2 separate regions of the Homo sapiens genome follow, and region 2 is linked to region 1. Evidence: fine-mapped expression QTL. Tissue or cell type: lung. Region 1 holds a variant in brackets; the other region holds the start of a gene. All regions are shown on one strand. Distances are from middle to middle.

Region 1 (8,256 bases):
CATACATGGTAACAAGAGATAACAAACAGTTTTGAAGTATGCTGTATTTATAAATTATAATGGTGGCCTACACTTGTAGTTCAGCCAAAGTGGCATTCTCTAAAGCAAAATTCTTATAAAATCTTCTCTGCAATACCAAGCTGCAAGTTTAACAATTTTTTAGCTTTGAAGTGAACCAACTTTATATTTAACTCAAACACATACTTTAAAAACATTTTCGGCCCCAAACTCTATGTTCACGAAGAAATAAAAATGGAGGAAAATCTCAAGTATAATCGTACCTTTACTATTCTATAAAATGCAGCAATATATTTTAAAAACTGTTGCATTTAAAGGTCAACCCACTAGATTTTTAACACTAACAGTCCAAGGTGTTATCAACCCCACTTAAAATTCAACTGTATAAAGCTTTCAGAACTGGGCCACACAGGTGTACTTCACTGAGCACTTTCCACCCATGGCCTAAAGGCAGGAGGTGTGGAAGTCCCCTCCAGGGAGACCAACTGCAGCCCCATACACTGTCACACGCATAAAACTTCTTTCAAGTTTTGTGTTCTATCTTAAAAATGAATTTGCACTATACTCCATGCCATTTACTTTAATATAAAAATAGTGTTTCAAATCGCTTACCAGTTAAATAACTCATCTTCCCTCCCACACCTCCAGGCACCAGACAGGCAGAGCCCAGCCTGGGAAGCCTAGCTTTCCACAGATAGGTAAGCCAGGCGCGGCAAGATGAGACTGTATTCAGTTAGGTCTATTTTAAGCATTTCCACAAATCATTTTATTCCTTCAGGTTGTAACTAAATGCTTCAGGAAACTATGACCGACATCAATTCCAATGTGTTGAATAATCAATCAGTCTATGTATTTTAGTGGTTTAAAGATTAATCTTTTGTTAAACAAAGAAATTTGTTAATTTTATTTACTAACAGGAATAAATAGAACCCCTAACCTAAAGTATAACCTGATCTTTTACTTTTTCTATAGAAAAACACAAACTGGATTTCTTTTTAACATAAAAAAGACAACACAAAACCCACAGAAAAATAAAATTCTTCTATCTAACTGGCTTTACAGATTTCCCTCATTAGTTGTGGATGTGACTTTGGTGGCTCTGGGTCACCCACCGCAAGCCCGACCCTGCAACTGAGTGTTCAGGCTGCCTTGTGGTGTCTCGGAAGCATTCCTACCAGAGTAAAAGCTATTCTCCTGAGATGGCACCTTTTTCTCCAGAAGATTCAGCCCTAACAGCTGCCACCTTGAAGGATGTATTTCACTGTCACAGGAAGCAGCCAAGTATGGGGGCCATGGTCCCGGCATGCACCTGGCTGGCTACACGCCCCGCCCCTCAGGAGTCCTCAGAGTCCACTGGCCTCTGCTGCTACTGCCCTGAAAGCCATCTGTGGCTTTAACTGGTTGTTTTAACAGGTTTCAAGAGATGTTCATTTTATTTTTTGTTTAGATTTAAGATGTCCTAAAAAATGTATATATTAAGATACACTTAAAAACATACTCTGAATATAATAAAAAAGATGTTGGTTCAAAAAAGGGTCAACAAGAAGAGGAAGCCAAGCTTCCTAGCATCTGTTTTTGTGGCCACGCTTTTCCCCATTAATGGTGTGAAAGTCTGAATCAACAGCAAATACAGCCATACAGACCTATGTATCTGTGTGCATGAGTGTGCATGGGTGTGCACACAGAGAAGTACATCTTGGCCGACTTAAGAAAAAATTATCTGTGTTGTGTCCCACAAACACTTGCTGTTGGCCTTTCAAGAGTATTCACCTCCCTGCCGAAGAGACAGCTTGAGTATGGAGGTTTAAAAACAATCCAGACAGGTGCTCCCTGTTGCCCTCGTTACCTAGGATTGAGGCAGTTTGGTGCACGTATTACAGTACCGAAAGCAAATGTCACTTTCTGATCTCCACAGGAACCACTCCCTAAAACATGAAACTACTGACCAACACTTGCTTTCCTCCGCATAGCACTTTGTCTGTGTTCATATGTGTCAACACAACTGGACTAAGAAAGAAAAGTCCCAATAAGGAAGTTTCCTTTTTTGACTACAGAGTGCCATACAGTCAGTGGGATGTTTTCTGTTGGTTGTTTTTAAATCATAAGTAACTGGGTATTAGCAATTGACAAAAGTGACTGGTTTGAGGTTTTGTAGGCAGAGGTCTCTCACTTTTTTTCTCAGATTTTTGCTCCTTAAAAAAAAGGCATGGTTTGCATGGAGTTTCAAAGCTAAGAACTATTGTTACCATGGTTGACCTGTGTACATAATGCACTGTGCATTAAGTAGCCCTTAATCAAGAGAGGGTTAACCATAGTGTTCCTCCCTTTTGCTCTTCTGTACATTATAATGTAGCAGAACTTCATTCTTAACATCCAGATTAGAGGTGTCTTCTTCATATTAGATATAAATTAACCAGAGGTCTAGAACTCTAAATTTCCAGAGATGTGAAAAATGTTTAATTTACTTCAAAAATATCTTGCATAAGTATCTCATCCCTAAGCTCAAACAAACAAGAAAATTAAAGGCAGAAAGAATACATAAAATTGAGAGCTCCTCCTATAATACATATACACACACTCTCGATATAGGTTCTACGCAGTAAAAGGAGTTGTTTCAGCTAATATAGCTTCTAATATCGATTTCATCTGAAAATAGCCTTTCTGGGTGTCTTGCCAGCATCATACGAAACAGCAGTACTTCTTCCACCAGGACTTGGAGAGGTTTTTCATTTTATCTGGAGTCCTGCTTTTAGACTTCTTTGGCTGTTGCTGAGTGTCCGAGTATTGAATGCCAGCGACGATGGCTGCATCAAAGACCTCTTTGAGGTTTTTTTGAGTCAAGGCTGAACACTCGATGTAGGAGGCGGCTTTGATTTCCTCGGCGCACAGCTTAGCCGCCTCTTCAGGCACTGGCTTTTCTTTGCATTTGTCCAACTCAATGAGGACTTTGACATCTTCTCTGAGATCCGACTGCGTTCCAACTAGGATGATGGGGGCTTTGGGACAGTGGCATCGAATCTCCGGCACCCATTTCTCACTGACGTTCTGGAAGGATGAGGGGCTCACGACACTGAAGCAGAGCAGGAAGATGTCTGTGTTGGTGTAGCAGAGAGGCCTCAGCTTGTCAAATTCATCCTGCAACCAAGCAAAGTACCCAAAAGTTATGTTTTCATGAATTCTCATCAGTAAAAAGATCACCTTCACATTTTTCATGAAAGGGTCTGGCAGGTGATAGAAGACCCGCTGGTTCTAGAAGGAAGAGCCAGCATCCTTGAAACGATCCTACTGTTTACCCAAGCGGGGCCAGTGCACCAGCGAAGGTGTGGCAGCCATCTGCTTTCAGGGCCAGCTATGGTCTGAACACTGCCAAACATGTTCAACGTGTTCATCGACACTCAAGACCTACTTACAGCTTAACATAGAAAAAGTGCTCAAAGTAGGTGGGTTCTAGAAATAAAATGGACTTAAGCCTTCAGCTGAGTGTAACCCAAACCTACTCTCAACTCTTGGTACTTAGCTACTCTTCTAAAATTCAGACCACACCCATATTGATCCTCAAGACTCCCACTCAAACCCAGTCTACGAACACAGCTCCTCTCTTTATCAATCCAGCCCTGCCTTTCCCAACAGCTCTGAGTGATGCCAATTTCATCCCATCTGCACTGTGCACACGCTCTGCCCACACTATGCACAGCAACGCAGAGTAATGCTAATCAGACTCAAGGCCAGACCAGAAATGGAGTTGAGGACCTTTGTCAGTCCATTGTCATCGTGACTCAGAAAACTTTTGCAGCTCAGTGCCACTTACAGACACTAGTTAA[T/C]ACATCCTCATTCTGGCTGTATCTTCTCTTCCTCCCTCCTTCCTTCATTTTCTCCTACTTCCTTTATCCTTGCCAGTACCCATGGCCTCCATGTACAGTGCTTTGGACAGATAAGAACTGGAGAATAGGCACGCCCACCCTACCCTTAAAGTATAGAGAAGTGGATAGAATAAGTTAGAGTTGATTACAAATAAACCAACGGTTGTGCTGCCAATGCTCTCCCGTGGTCATCCATTTAACAGACACACTGAACATCACCTACACTCAAGGCACAGTGGCAGGCGAGGGGATTTGGCTGTGAACAGACAGATGTTGTTCTCCAAATTACCATTTCTTTACAGAAAACATCCTATAGTTCCCTGTAGCACCATATTCAGCTAACTGACAACTTTTGCTCAACTCTTTTGTAGAAAAATATTTACTCTTTCCTATGTAAAATGTATATCTGTTGGTGCCAACCATCCTCAGGTATAAATAATTTCCCAATGACAAGAAAAAGTTCAACGCCATTCATGTTTTTCATTACTCAATTGACACACTCCGATTATTTACCAAGTACCATTTACATCACATTATACTCCATCCGTGGCTTTTTTCTCTTGGTATAAAAGAAACCTGTAACTTATTTGAATGTACTTTCTTCATTTGAGGCCCCATGTTTCAATTACGGGACGACAGCCAACCAACTAATCACATTAAAGTCAACCAGCTAAAATGCTCAGCAATCAATGTGGTATTTCAGAATGTCACTTGTGAGGCTTCTGTAAGCGAAAGTTGAAAAAGTATGACTTAGCCAAATGTGGTGGCACGTGCCTATAGTCACAGTTACTTGGGAAGCTGAGGCAGGGGGATCACTTGAGCCCTGGAGTTTGAGACCAGCCTGGGTGACATACCAAGACCCTGCTCTCTAAAAAAAATTTTTAAAAAGAAAAATAATGACTTAAGTTTCTTCATGCCAACTTTGTGATGAATAAATAAACACAGAAACACAGCCAGGTAGACTATGGCTCAGTCATGAAGATCTTTTAATGGAATGCTCCCTCTGTTCTTAGAGGGCCTCAAAGAAAGAAGCATAAAACTGAGACCAGTATTAAGGCAGCCCCCTCAGGTAGCTGCACCCCTGGCCATGCCCTGGTATCTGGGGTTGCATTACTGAGAAAAATAAAGGCAAGCACAAGGGCTGGGACTTCTGAGGGGGCTTTGGAAAGCTATCTCCCCAGATCTCTTGAGATTCTGGCTAAGGGGCTTGAGAAATAAAACAGAAATTAGACCCTCCTGCTCAGTGCCTGACCTGAAATCTTAGAAATAATGCAATACACACGTGCAATGAGGACAACTGGAATGCACCCTTAAGAAAAGGCGTTCTGAGGCCAAGCAATTTGCATGTGCTTGCCAGGTCTGTGGTACGGACACTGCACAGAAGTCTGATCAGGGTTGGCGGGGCAGAGAGACGAGACTGGATTCTACATCCCTCTGGTCTAGCTGCAACTTGATTTTTTTTTTTCAGTATAAGATTTTTCCAAGTACTTTATGGGTCAAAAGGCTGAAGAATTTTCAGCTTCTATTGGCAACTCTCCAGTGAACTACTCCTATTTCCGCAATACTTTTTTCTCTTATGCCAAAGGTATGTTTTTTCAAGCCTCCAGTCTGTCTCTGATCAATCTGCCCTTGAGTGATGTAAGACCAGTGTTAAAAACTCCTTTTGACATCTTATAGACTCGCCTACCCTCCCTAACAAGAAAAGCCAAAGTACAAGAAGTGATTTCTTCAGCATGTAGAGCCATCCATACTCTGCTCCCATCAACTTCTGTGGGAAACCCACACTCCAGCTCCACATCCCCAAGTTCTAGCCTATCTGTGCTCACGTTGATTCTCCAGGCATCTGAAGTGGAGGTCAGTGGAGTCACTTAACCCTCAAGGCTCTTATGTCAACTGCCTAGAAGAGGTATGTGTTCCTTCCTCCATAAGGAAACTTGGCAGGTATCACAGCAAGTCCCTTAAAATGTATTTTATCAGATCAGGACTAGGGAGAGTAGAAAAGAACTGCCACTTTGACCAGCTTGGCTAGTAGTCTAAACAAAGACTAATTTATAAATGGGGGATCAGGAAAACAAAAACAGAACAACTGACTTATCTTACCAGCAGCTTATTTTTCATAGTTTTTGAAGATGGTTCTTCTTCAAAAGTTTTGAAGTTGGTTCTAAAAGTCTACAAATTTTTAGATAGTGGTCTTATTCATTATTTAATTGGGTATACTCTTCTAACCAGTACACAAAGGTTAAGAAATACAGTAAATCTCATTGAAAATATTGCTAAGAGGCCAGAAGAATAATTTTCAAATAAACTGAAACTTACAAATGTAGCACCAAAACCTTCGTTTTTCCCTAATTATAAACTTTTTTGTGCAAAAATACTACTAAAGTGATGCTTGTGCTTCCCTGATTTTTAAACAGGAACAATTTAACTCTTCCTTGATGATTCAGTCATTTATGCAAAGTTCTTCTGGTAAAATTCCTATTTGTCTTTCAAAACTCTGCTCAGAGGTTTTCCTGCCAGGCCCAACCAGCCTGCACCTCTAAGCCCGAACCTCTTTTCTTCCCTTTGCTTGCTCCTTCACGAGCTTCCATTTGTCTTCCCTCCACACTGTAAGTCTATTAAGGGGCAGGCCCACAACTTATGTTTATACCCCCACCACCTGGTCCTTCTCTGGTTCATCCATTCTAAAACCACGAGATTAAGCCCTGCTATGTGCCAGGCACTATGCTGGGCACTGGGCATGAAACCCCAGCTCAAGAAGCTGCATCCTGCTTGAAGAGCCAACACTTACGGGGAGCCCAGTGGACAGTGATATTTGAGTGACATCCTGGGGCAGGTAGGTGCACTGAGCTTCTGCTCCAGCCCGTAAGGCTCCCTGCTAACTGTGCCTTTGGACTTCCTGTATTTTCCTGACTTCCATCTTATCCTCAGGGTCTGACTTCAGCAGGTCCGATGGCTATGTTTACTGACATGTTCCTCTGCCTGTGTTTTATTTTTTTTGAGATGGAATCTCTCTCTGTCAACCAGGCTGCAGGGCAGTGACGCGATCTCAGCCCACTGCAACCTCCGCCTCCCAGGTTCAAGCAACTGTCTGCCTCAGGCTCCTGAGTAGCTGCTATTACAGGCGCCCGGCACCACACCCAGCTAATTTTTGTATTTTTAGTAGAGACGGGGTTTCACCATCTTGGCCAGGCTGGTCTTGAACTCCTGACCTCATGATCCACCCGTCTCAGCCTCCCAAAGTGCTGGGATTACAGGCGTGAGCAACCGCGCCTGGCTGGCCATGTTTTAAAACTCAGAAAACCTGACCCCCTGGTAGACAAAGCATCCTCACTTCATACAAGGAAATGAAGCTTGAATTATAAATATCACCATTGCATTCAGAAAGATTCAGTGCTAGAAGTGACTGTATTCTTTGATTTTTCTTTTTTTTTACCCCCAAGAGATGGGATCTTGCTCTGTCGCCCAGGCTGGAGTGCAGTGGCACCATCATAGCTCACTACAGCCTCAAACTCCTGGGTTCAAGCGATCCTCTCACCTCAGCCTCCTGAGTGGCTGGTGGCTGGGACTACAGACAGTGCCACCACACCAGGCTAATTTTTTTATTTTGTAGAGATGATGTCTTGCTATGCTACCCAGGCTGGTCTCAAATTCCTGGCCTCATGCAATCCTCCCACCTCAGCCTCCCAAAGAGCATGAGCCACCACACCCAGCCTGATTTTTGTTTTCTACAGACAATACAATACGGACAGTGCTTGGTTTTTCCAAGCTGAAGTGCTCCCAAGCTATGGCCTGCACCAGCCCGGTGTTCCTTGGAGATCAAGGCTCCACGGTCTTATGTCATCTTCAGGTTTAAAAAATAAGATCTGTCCTTAGCTCTGAATCTGCTGTCCCAGAGTAGGTGAGCAACTTGGAAGCTCTGGCGTAGATGAGGCTCTGGGGGGCAGTGGAAAGCCAGTGCCTTCATAAACACAGATAGTCATGTGATGGCACCTCAGAAAGTGAAGGGGGCACTTTCACCTGCCTACAAAGTACCCCCGGAACTTTGCTGAACTCTAGAACATACTAGAGAGACAAGTTCATTAACTATCACTTTGCCAAAATCAAGTACCCCTGGGTGTTCACAAGGCACAGCCTGACTTCAATGACTCGAGTACCCACCAATGGGGGCTTCTTCTGGGGAACACAAAGAGGGAACCCTACACTCCCTGGCTATTTCCTCCAAGGGCCCAGCCCTCGAGACAAGAACCAGCGTTCACAGTTTGGATAGAATAAGCCCAGTTAGTTCATCCCTCCAGCTTAGGACTGCTCTGACAAATGTATCTGTGCTTCAAGTGATGGGGCTGGTCCTAGCGAGTCAAACCATAGCTCAGGAAGGGAA
Region 2 (8,000 bases), 600 kb after region 1:
CACACCACACATGTGTACCTGCAAAGGTACACATGCACACGCATACATGTCATTGATCACAAACACACCGGACCCCCAGTTAAAAAGACTCAAGAGGAAGGGAACTGCAGGACACCCACCCAGAAGTCCATGTGCTCTCCATAAGGGATAGACTCCTCCCTCCTTACTGCCTCTTCTGGGCTTTTTGTCACAAGCACACATCGTTTTCATCTCACCATGCACCCCATGCCCTCCTGGCTCTCCCACCCGCAGAATTTGCCCCTGCGCTTAGCTCGGGCCTCCCCACTAACCTGGCTCCTGCTGCTCACCCAGCCCTGCCACCTCCTCTACGTGCCAGCCAACCATCAGCACGCACTGCAGTGGCCAGGGTTCTTTATCCATTCAGCTTCTCCCAGCCAGCGAGCCCTGCAACCTCCACAGCCTGGTTCCCATAATGCACTAGCTAGGAGCCCCCCAGAGTCTCCCACAATCAATGAGCCATGCCACTTGTGTGAATTTCTGGCCCCTGCTTCTCGCCAGGGTGGAAGGGGTACAGTTCTCAGGACACATCCAGCAATTGCTACACACCTACTTGAAGCACTGAGATCACAGAAATTATGACTTGATGGTATTATGGTGACTTTTCTAATACGAAGGAGAAAAAGTAAAGCTAAATCATGTGCTTCGAAGGACCCGATATGGGAGAGCTACTCAAATGGTCCTGTGGGCTGGACCCCATGTGAGCTTCTGTCCTGTTGCTCCACTGAGCTGGCCCTTCTTAAGGTCACTCTGCCCTGCCAACCCACAACCAGCATGGCACTGGTGGGCCTGACAGGGCTGCCCCAAGGCCGGTCCTGCCCTGTTCCCCCCAGCCCCTGGCTCCAAGCTCTTCGGGTCTGAACCTAGATGCTACGTGACTATAAACCCACACAGAAGGAAACACAGTGGTGACCTCCACTGACCAGGCCTCCCCTCCTCCCTCCTGAGGGAGCGCTAAGCTAGTGAAGTGAAGCTGGGCCCACAGGCAGAAGACACCAGTTCGCCCAGCTGCTGCCAGGCAGGGGTCCAGGCTCCAGCCTTGCCAAGGGCGTCGTCTGCACAGCTGTGCCTACACTCGCCCAGCACAGGGCACAAGGCACACGTGGCACATCAATCGCCAAAAACTCTGGGAGTTTTTGCGTCCTCAGAAGGGGGAGAGCCACACCTTCTGAGGATCCCACCAAACTACCACAAGACCCTGGTCTCCATCCCCTCCTCGGCCCCAAACCCCATCCCCGATGCCCAGGAATTGGGGAGCTCGTGCCTCACTTCCAACTCCCAGGAATGGGGGGTGCTGGAGTCCCACCTCTGGCTCCTGGGTTGGGGATCTCCCCCTTTCCTCGCAAGCAGCAAGTGGCAGGTGTGTCTCTTCACCACAGGGCCCTGACAACGATCAGACACCAACAGATGCAACCCAGCACAGAGCAGACAGCAGACGCTGGTGGGCCCCAACCCCGCCTGTTTCCTCCACAGGTGTTGCCCCTGCACCACCCTTACCCCGCCAAGCCCAGGCTCCCAGGCCTCCCCTCCTCCCTCCTGAGGGAGCAGTAAGCTATTGAGGTGAGGCTGGGCCCGCAGGCAGAAGACACCAGTTCACCCAGCTGCTGCCAGGCAGGGGTCCAGGCTCCAGCCTCGCCAAGGGCGTTGTCTGCGCAGCTGTGCCCACTCTCGCCCAGCACAGGGCACGAGGCACACATGACACACCAATTGCCAAGAACTCTGGACGGGCCAACACTCCGCTCTTCCTGGGTCCCCTGAGTTCGGCTCTGCCCAAGCGTGAGGGCACAATGAGCAGACTACTGGGGGCCCTGGCCAGCCAGAGAGTGCAGAGGGCAGACAGTGAGTGGATGCGGGCCTTGCAGAAGCACAGCCACACCACCACCGCTGGAGACAGGGCGGAGGCACAGGCTGCCTGCCTGCCTGGGGAGAGACCAGTGGCAGGGCGGTCACCAAAGCCACCTTCCATGGAGCACACCCAAGGGAGAAAACTGTGGCCCAGGCCTCAAGGCTCCTGCAATCTTGCGGTGGAAACCACGGAGCCTTTGCCCTGACCAGAACACATGCGCCAAAGGTGTCTTCCTGTGGGCAGAGGGAAGCATTCCAGCAAACATTCTGTGCTCTCCACTCTCACCAACCCACAGTCGCAAACTCCAATCAGCTGCCTGGCAAGAAGCCACACAACCCACAACTGTAAGGACCTGCCAGGCACGTGGTCTCCACAGGAGCTCCGAGATGGAAGGTCTCCTGGGAGCCGCCGGCGCAGATCCATGTTCCGGAATGGTCTCTGCCAGAACGCTCCCTGGACTGGGCTCCCATGCTGCCCCAGCAGCCGCTTTCCTGGAAAGGCACTCCCTGCTGTGGCGGCATAATCTCCTCCTTCTGGCTTCCAGCCATCCTAAGGACTGAACAGAGTCACCACCTTGCCCCCGGCCCACTGTTCGAGGAGATGCTAACAGAGGGCTTGACCTTCTGAGAACCGAGAGAATTCAGCCCCCGCCTGGCCTCTCGTAAGACACAAACCACCAGACGTGGGCCTGGGCTCTGGGCTGGGCCAGGTGGATGAAGGGGAGGCTGGTGGTCCAGGCGGCTGCTCTTGGCTGCAGGGTTTCTGGGCACACATCCGGGTAGCACGCATCCTGGCCTTCAGCAACCTCGTTTTAAATGGGACCACACCAGGAGCAGCCAGGGCGCTTTCATTTTCACTTTCTTTCCCCGGGGGGGACAGGAACATTCCTTTACCTCCTGAGGAAATCGGGCTCTTCCAGAGCCACAGAGGAGTGAAGGCCCCAGCCCTTCACGATGCTGCGCGGCTATGTTTGGGTCTGTCCATCAGGGAGAAAGAAAAACCGGCCGAGTCTTGCACAGGGTCCTCGACAGCAACCCCAGGTAAAGAGCAGAGCAAGCCTGAGACAGGAAGGGGCCATGAGCCCAAAGACAGCAGAGCAGGACCCAGCCCGGGGCCTCAGGACCGACCTCTTTCATGCAAAGACGAAACCGAGGCCCACCACACGCAGGGTCAAAATCAACTTTGAGGCACCTGCTTCCCACACCAGTCCTTACTGGGGCATACTTCTAAGGCGACGCTCAAGAATGGCAGCAGGGCAGCTTCAAGAACCCCAACCCGGACTCTGGCTTTGGAGAATCCGAACCCCAAATGCCACACCCATGCGTCGGGAAGGCCTGCTGTTTCCCCAAGTCCCCGTCTCTGCGCCGTGCCGCGGAGTAGGCAGAATCCTGGGAGCCCCGGAATAGCCGGCTCCATCCGCCCAGGACCCCAAGGCTTGCAGGGTGAGGTGGGAACCGGAGCGCACACCGCGCCGGGCCAGCGGTAGGGACTCCCAGCTGCTCTCTTTGGCGGCGCGCCCAGGTGTCGGGAAGACACCGAGCGCTCCTATACGCCCGGGGAGCAGCTCGACACTGCGATAACTGCCGGCCTGCCCAGCTCCTGAGGAGCGCCCCGCCCTCCGGGACCCGGGCTCCGCTGCGTTGCCAGCCCGTCCGCCCTCCAGAGCTCCCCCGTTCTCAGGGCCCACAGTTGAATGCGGCACAGGGCGTCTCGGCTAGGAGGAGATCCGGAGGCGGCGTGGACTGGGCGACCGCAAAGCGCAGGGACCGCTGCCGCCTCGACCCGAGTCACCCTCGCGATCGCGCTTGTCGTACTCACCGTCCGGTGGGGCCCGGCCCAGGGCGGCCGCAGCCAGCCCGGCCAGCGGGCGCCGCAGCATCCGGGGCCACCTCTTCCGCCCACTGAACCTACGTGACAGCGCCGCACCGGCCCACCTCCGCCCGCGCGCGAGACTGACGTCATGAGGCGACTGCCCCGCCCATGTCTCACTCGTTCTTCCCCGCCCCTTAGGGAAGTACTTACCTCAGTGCCTCGCTAGCCCCGCCTCCACCTGCGCTGGCCTGTCGCGACCGCAGGGGCGTTCAGCACAGCGCCCTCCCAGCCCGTCTTCTCCCGCTGCGTCACAGCGCCACGCCGGCCCGCCTCCACACAGCGCGAACTAACATCACGACCCGCCGGCCCCGCCCACGGCGTACTTGTCCCGCTTGTCACTCAGAGAAGTACCTCAGTGCAGCGCGGGCCCGGCTTTCATCTGCTACGTCACAGCGCTGCCTCAGCCCGCCTCCTCCCGCTTATGTCACAGCGCCGTTTCCGTCCTCCATCTACACTGCAGGGACCTAACTAACGAACGACTCCGCTAGCCCGTTCCAAACCGGCCACTCTCCAAAAACCATTAATTGGGGAATGTGGCCGGGCGCGTGGTTCACGTCTGTGATCCCAGCTCTTTGGGAGTCCGAGCCGGGAGGACCGCTTGAGGCCAGGAATTGGAGACCAGCCTGGGGATCATAGGGAAACCCCTTCTGTACCAAAAAATTTAAAAACTTTTTTGTGCCTGTAGTCCTTGCTACTCGGGAGGCTGACGTGGGACGGTCGCTTGAGCCTGGGCAGTCGAGGCTGCAGTGAGCGGTGTTCGTGTCACTGCACTCCAGTCTGTGTGACAGAGCGAGACCCTATTTCTTTCTTTTTTTATTTTTTGAGACGGAGTTTCGCTCTTGTCACCCAGGCTGGAGTTCAGTGACGCCATCTCTGCTCACTGCAACCTGGGCCTCCTAGGTTCAAGCGATTCTCCTGCCTCAGCCTCCCGAGTAGCTGGGATTACAGGCGCCCGCCACCACGCCCAGCTAATTTTTGTATTTTTAGTAGAGACAGGGTTTCACCATGTTGGCCAGGCTGGTCTTGAACTCCTAACCTCAGGTAATCCACCAACCTTGGCCTCCCAAAGTGCTGGGATTACAGGCGTGAGCCACTGCACCTGGCCACGGGACTCTATTTCTAAAAATTATTTTAAATTTTTAAAAAAGATTTATTGAAGGCTGGGTGCAGTGGCTCACACCTGTAATGCCAGCACTTTGGGAGTCCGAGGCAGGCAGATCACCTGAGGCCAGGAGTTTGGGACTAGCCTGGCCAAAATGGTGAAACTCTGTCTCTACTAAAAATACAAAATCAGCTGGGTGTGGTCGTGGGCCCCTGTAATTCCAGCTACTGGGGTGGCTGAGGCAGGAGGATCACTTGAACCTGGGAGGTGGAGGTTGCAGTGAGCCGAGATCAAGCCACGGCACTCCAGCCTAGACGACAGAATGAGACTCCGTCTCAAAAAAAAAAAAAAAAAGTATTGAATGTGAACTGCAGGAGAGCAAGAAAAAAAGTAAAACTTTAAAAAATACAACTTCAAAAAAATGTGTTGGGGCTGGGCACCATGGCTCATGCCTGCAGTCCCAGCACTTTTGGAGGCCAAGGCGGATGGATCACTTGCCCCGGAGTTGGAGACCAGCCTGGGCAACATGGCAAAGCCTTGTCTCTATTTTTTTTAAATACTAATAATAAAACAGTTTGTTGGACAAGGGATTGTAACCTGGAATACATGTGCTATGTCATACCATAGGTGCTGCATTGGGGGAGGTGGGCAAGGAGAAGCTTTTTAGGCAAAAAAAGGGGAAGTTCACTGTCAGAGGCAAAATTATGTCATATGTATTCATAGGTCTCGCTGGCTTTTATTCGTGATTCATGAATTGAGGCAGCCTTCATTCTACAAAATAGAATAAAAGCCCCTGCCTGAATTAGCCAGGTGTGGTGGCGGGCACCTGTAGTCCCAGCTACGCAGGAGGCTGAGGCAGGAGAATGGCGTGGACCCGGGAGGTGGAGCTTGCAGTGAGCTGAGATGCGCCACTGCACTCCAGCTTGGGCGACAGAGCGCGACCATCTCAAAAAAAAAAAAAAAAAAAAAAAAAGCCCCTGCCTGGGCGATAGCAGAACCATGGGTTTTGTAAGGTGAGGAGAACGAGGAAACAAGATAGAAAAATAACAGATTGATAACCTTAGCTTACTTCAGGTTACTCTTTTGTAAGGGTTAGAGAGAAGAAGGGACTTCCTTATTATGCCAACTGAGGAAAAACTAATCTGTTTTGGGATTTAGTTTCTTATGTAGTATTTAACATAAGTGATTTAATTTTGGTTTGGCCTGGTCTATTGGGACCTAGTGCAAGAGCTCGGTCCAAAACAATGGCCTCCCATGATTTTTTAAAAACAATTTTTACCCATTTTGATCAGGCTCTCACCTAGCTTGACCAAAACTTAAAAGTGCCTCTCTCAGTTACTATCAGTTTGGGTTTCTGGTCTCAACATGTCATTGATAGGTTACAGTGTCTTCATGATCATGCTTTTCTTTTCTTTCTTTCTTTTTTTTTTTGAGACGGAGTCTCGCCCTGTCGCCCAGTGCAATAGCACAATCTCAGCTCACTGCGACCTCCACCTCCTGGGTTCAAACAATTCTCCTGCCTCAGCCTCCTGAGTAGCTGGGATTACAGGTGCCCACCACCATGCCCAGCTAATTTTTGTATTTTTAGTAGAGATGGAGTTTCACCATATTGGCCAGGCTGGTCTCAAACTTCTGACCACATGATCCGCCCGCCTTGGCCTCCCAAAGTGCTGGGATTGCAGGCGTGAGCCACCATGCCTGGCCATGATCATGCATTTCTTTGAGTTTGTGTCATTCCAGCTGAAGAGGGACCATTTGATGTTCAATGGATGGTCACATGCAAACATTTAAAACATTTGAAAGGATACAACACACCAGGGAGACTACTATTGTGACTGTCAGGAGGATAATACCAAGGGTTTGGAGTATGTTCCTTAGCCAGAGTCCCTGTGAACCCAACCAACGAAAACTGAATAGATCAAACAATAAGCCAGATGGGGAGTCTACCCATTTTAACCAAGTAGCCTGTTTGTTAATTTTTTGCAGCTGAGTCTACAATACCTGATGTATTTACCCATGTGCAACAAGATGTGTCAGAAACCACACAGACCCCTTCCTGTTCAGCTAGTAGGTAATCTATGTAAAATTAAGGCAGGGAGTGAGAAGAAGTGGGTCTGGTTTGCTTTGATGCCAAACAGTTGCATCAGGGATGTTGCCAAACTTACCCACTAAGTAAACTAAAGGATCTGTTGGGTCATAAAGATGAGAGTCTGGCCTGACAGACCCGATATATTTATCAGGTAACCCACAGAAGCTACTGGTGTGAAATTCTAACTACAGCATTAGCCTGCCAAGTGAAAGAGATAGGCATGAGCAAGGAAAAATTGAGAGGGGCAAGAGGCTAGTCTTCTTTGGATATCTGGGGAAAAGCTTCACAATGTAAAATGGTCAACTTCTGGTCCTGATTTGTAATATGACTGTCTCTGATTATGACAACAGATGGTTTGGTGAACTCTGTATGGTCCACACGTTGGCATGAGACTTGTCCCTTGATGCTTACATCAAGTTGTCCAGCTTAGTAGCTTTGTTCTTAAGGTGGAGAGTTGTCAACATATGTTGGAGGAAACAAGAAGAATTCAGGGTCCAGTCCATTCTGCAGGTAGATAATAAAAACTCTAGAACAACAAACAAGGCTACAATCTAAGAACAAGTGTACTATAATGTTCTTTCTTCTGAAACATACATTTTCTCTTTACAGTTGCCCCTCATTTCTACCAGAGATAATCAGAGTAAGACTAATTTGTTTGCAAAATGTTTAGCCTCATCAAACTTGCCCTGCTTATTTAGGTAAGTTCAGTGAGAATAGCATCAACCACATAGGCTCTTTTAAGTTTGCTTGGGTGGAACTTTAGATCAGGAATCTCAAAATGAACTTTTAAAAATCTTTCGATGCTAGGAAGCCAGTGTAGATAGAATGCGTCTGTAAGTACTGCAGGCAAAGTCTGTATCTACAGTCTCAATTTCGATATCCCAGTCATAATATAACCAATATTTCCAATTGTGTCCTGTTATAAAGAGGGCAGATTCTCCTCCTCCTTCTTCCTCTTCTTTCTTCCTCTTCTTCTGTCAGGGCCTCACTCTGTTGCCCAGGCTGGAGCACAGTGGTGCAATAATAGCTCCCTACAGCCTCAACCTTCTAGCCTCAAGTGATCTTCCCTCCAT

What was found. PIP is the estimated chance that this variant, and not a neighbour inherited with it, causes the effect.
Region 2: GUK1 starts here. The variant in region 1 is fine-mapped to the expression of GUK1 in lung (TOPMed, PIP above 0.99).

The regions. Positions count from the first base shown.
Region 1 is chr1:228,738,182-228,746,437 of GRCh38, reverse strand. RHOU (ras homolog family member U) reads right to left here. Exons shown (of 3, transcript NM_021205.6): 3 at 1-3,153. The coding sequence ends at 2,698. Among named protein-coding and RNA genes, the nearest start is that of RHOU, 6.8 kb to the right of the region's middle. The variant T/C (reference allele first, on the strand shown) is at 3,840.
Region 2 is chr1:228,136,046-228,144,045 of GRCh38, reverse strand. GUK1 (guanylate kinase 1) reads right to left here and starts at 3,767. Exons shown (of 8, transcript NM_001159390.2): 1 at 3,683-3,767. The coding sequence starts at 3,743. It also overlaps the pseudogene RPS28P3. RefSeq lists enhancers at 1-159, 3,751-3,980, 4,091-4,140 and a silencer at 3,181-3,740.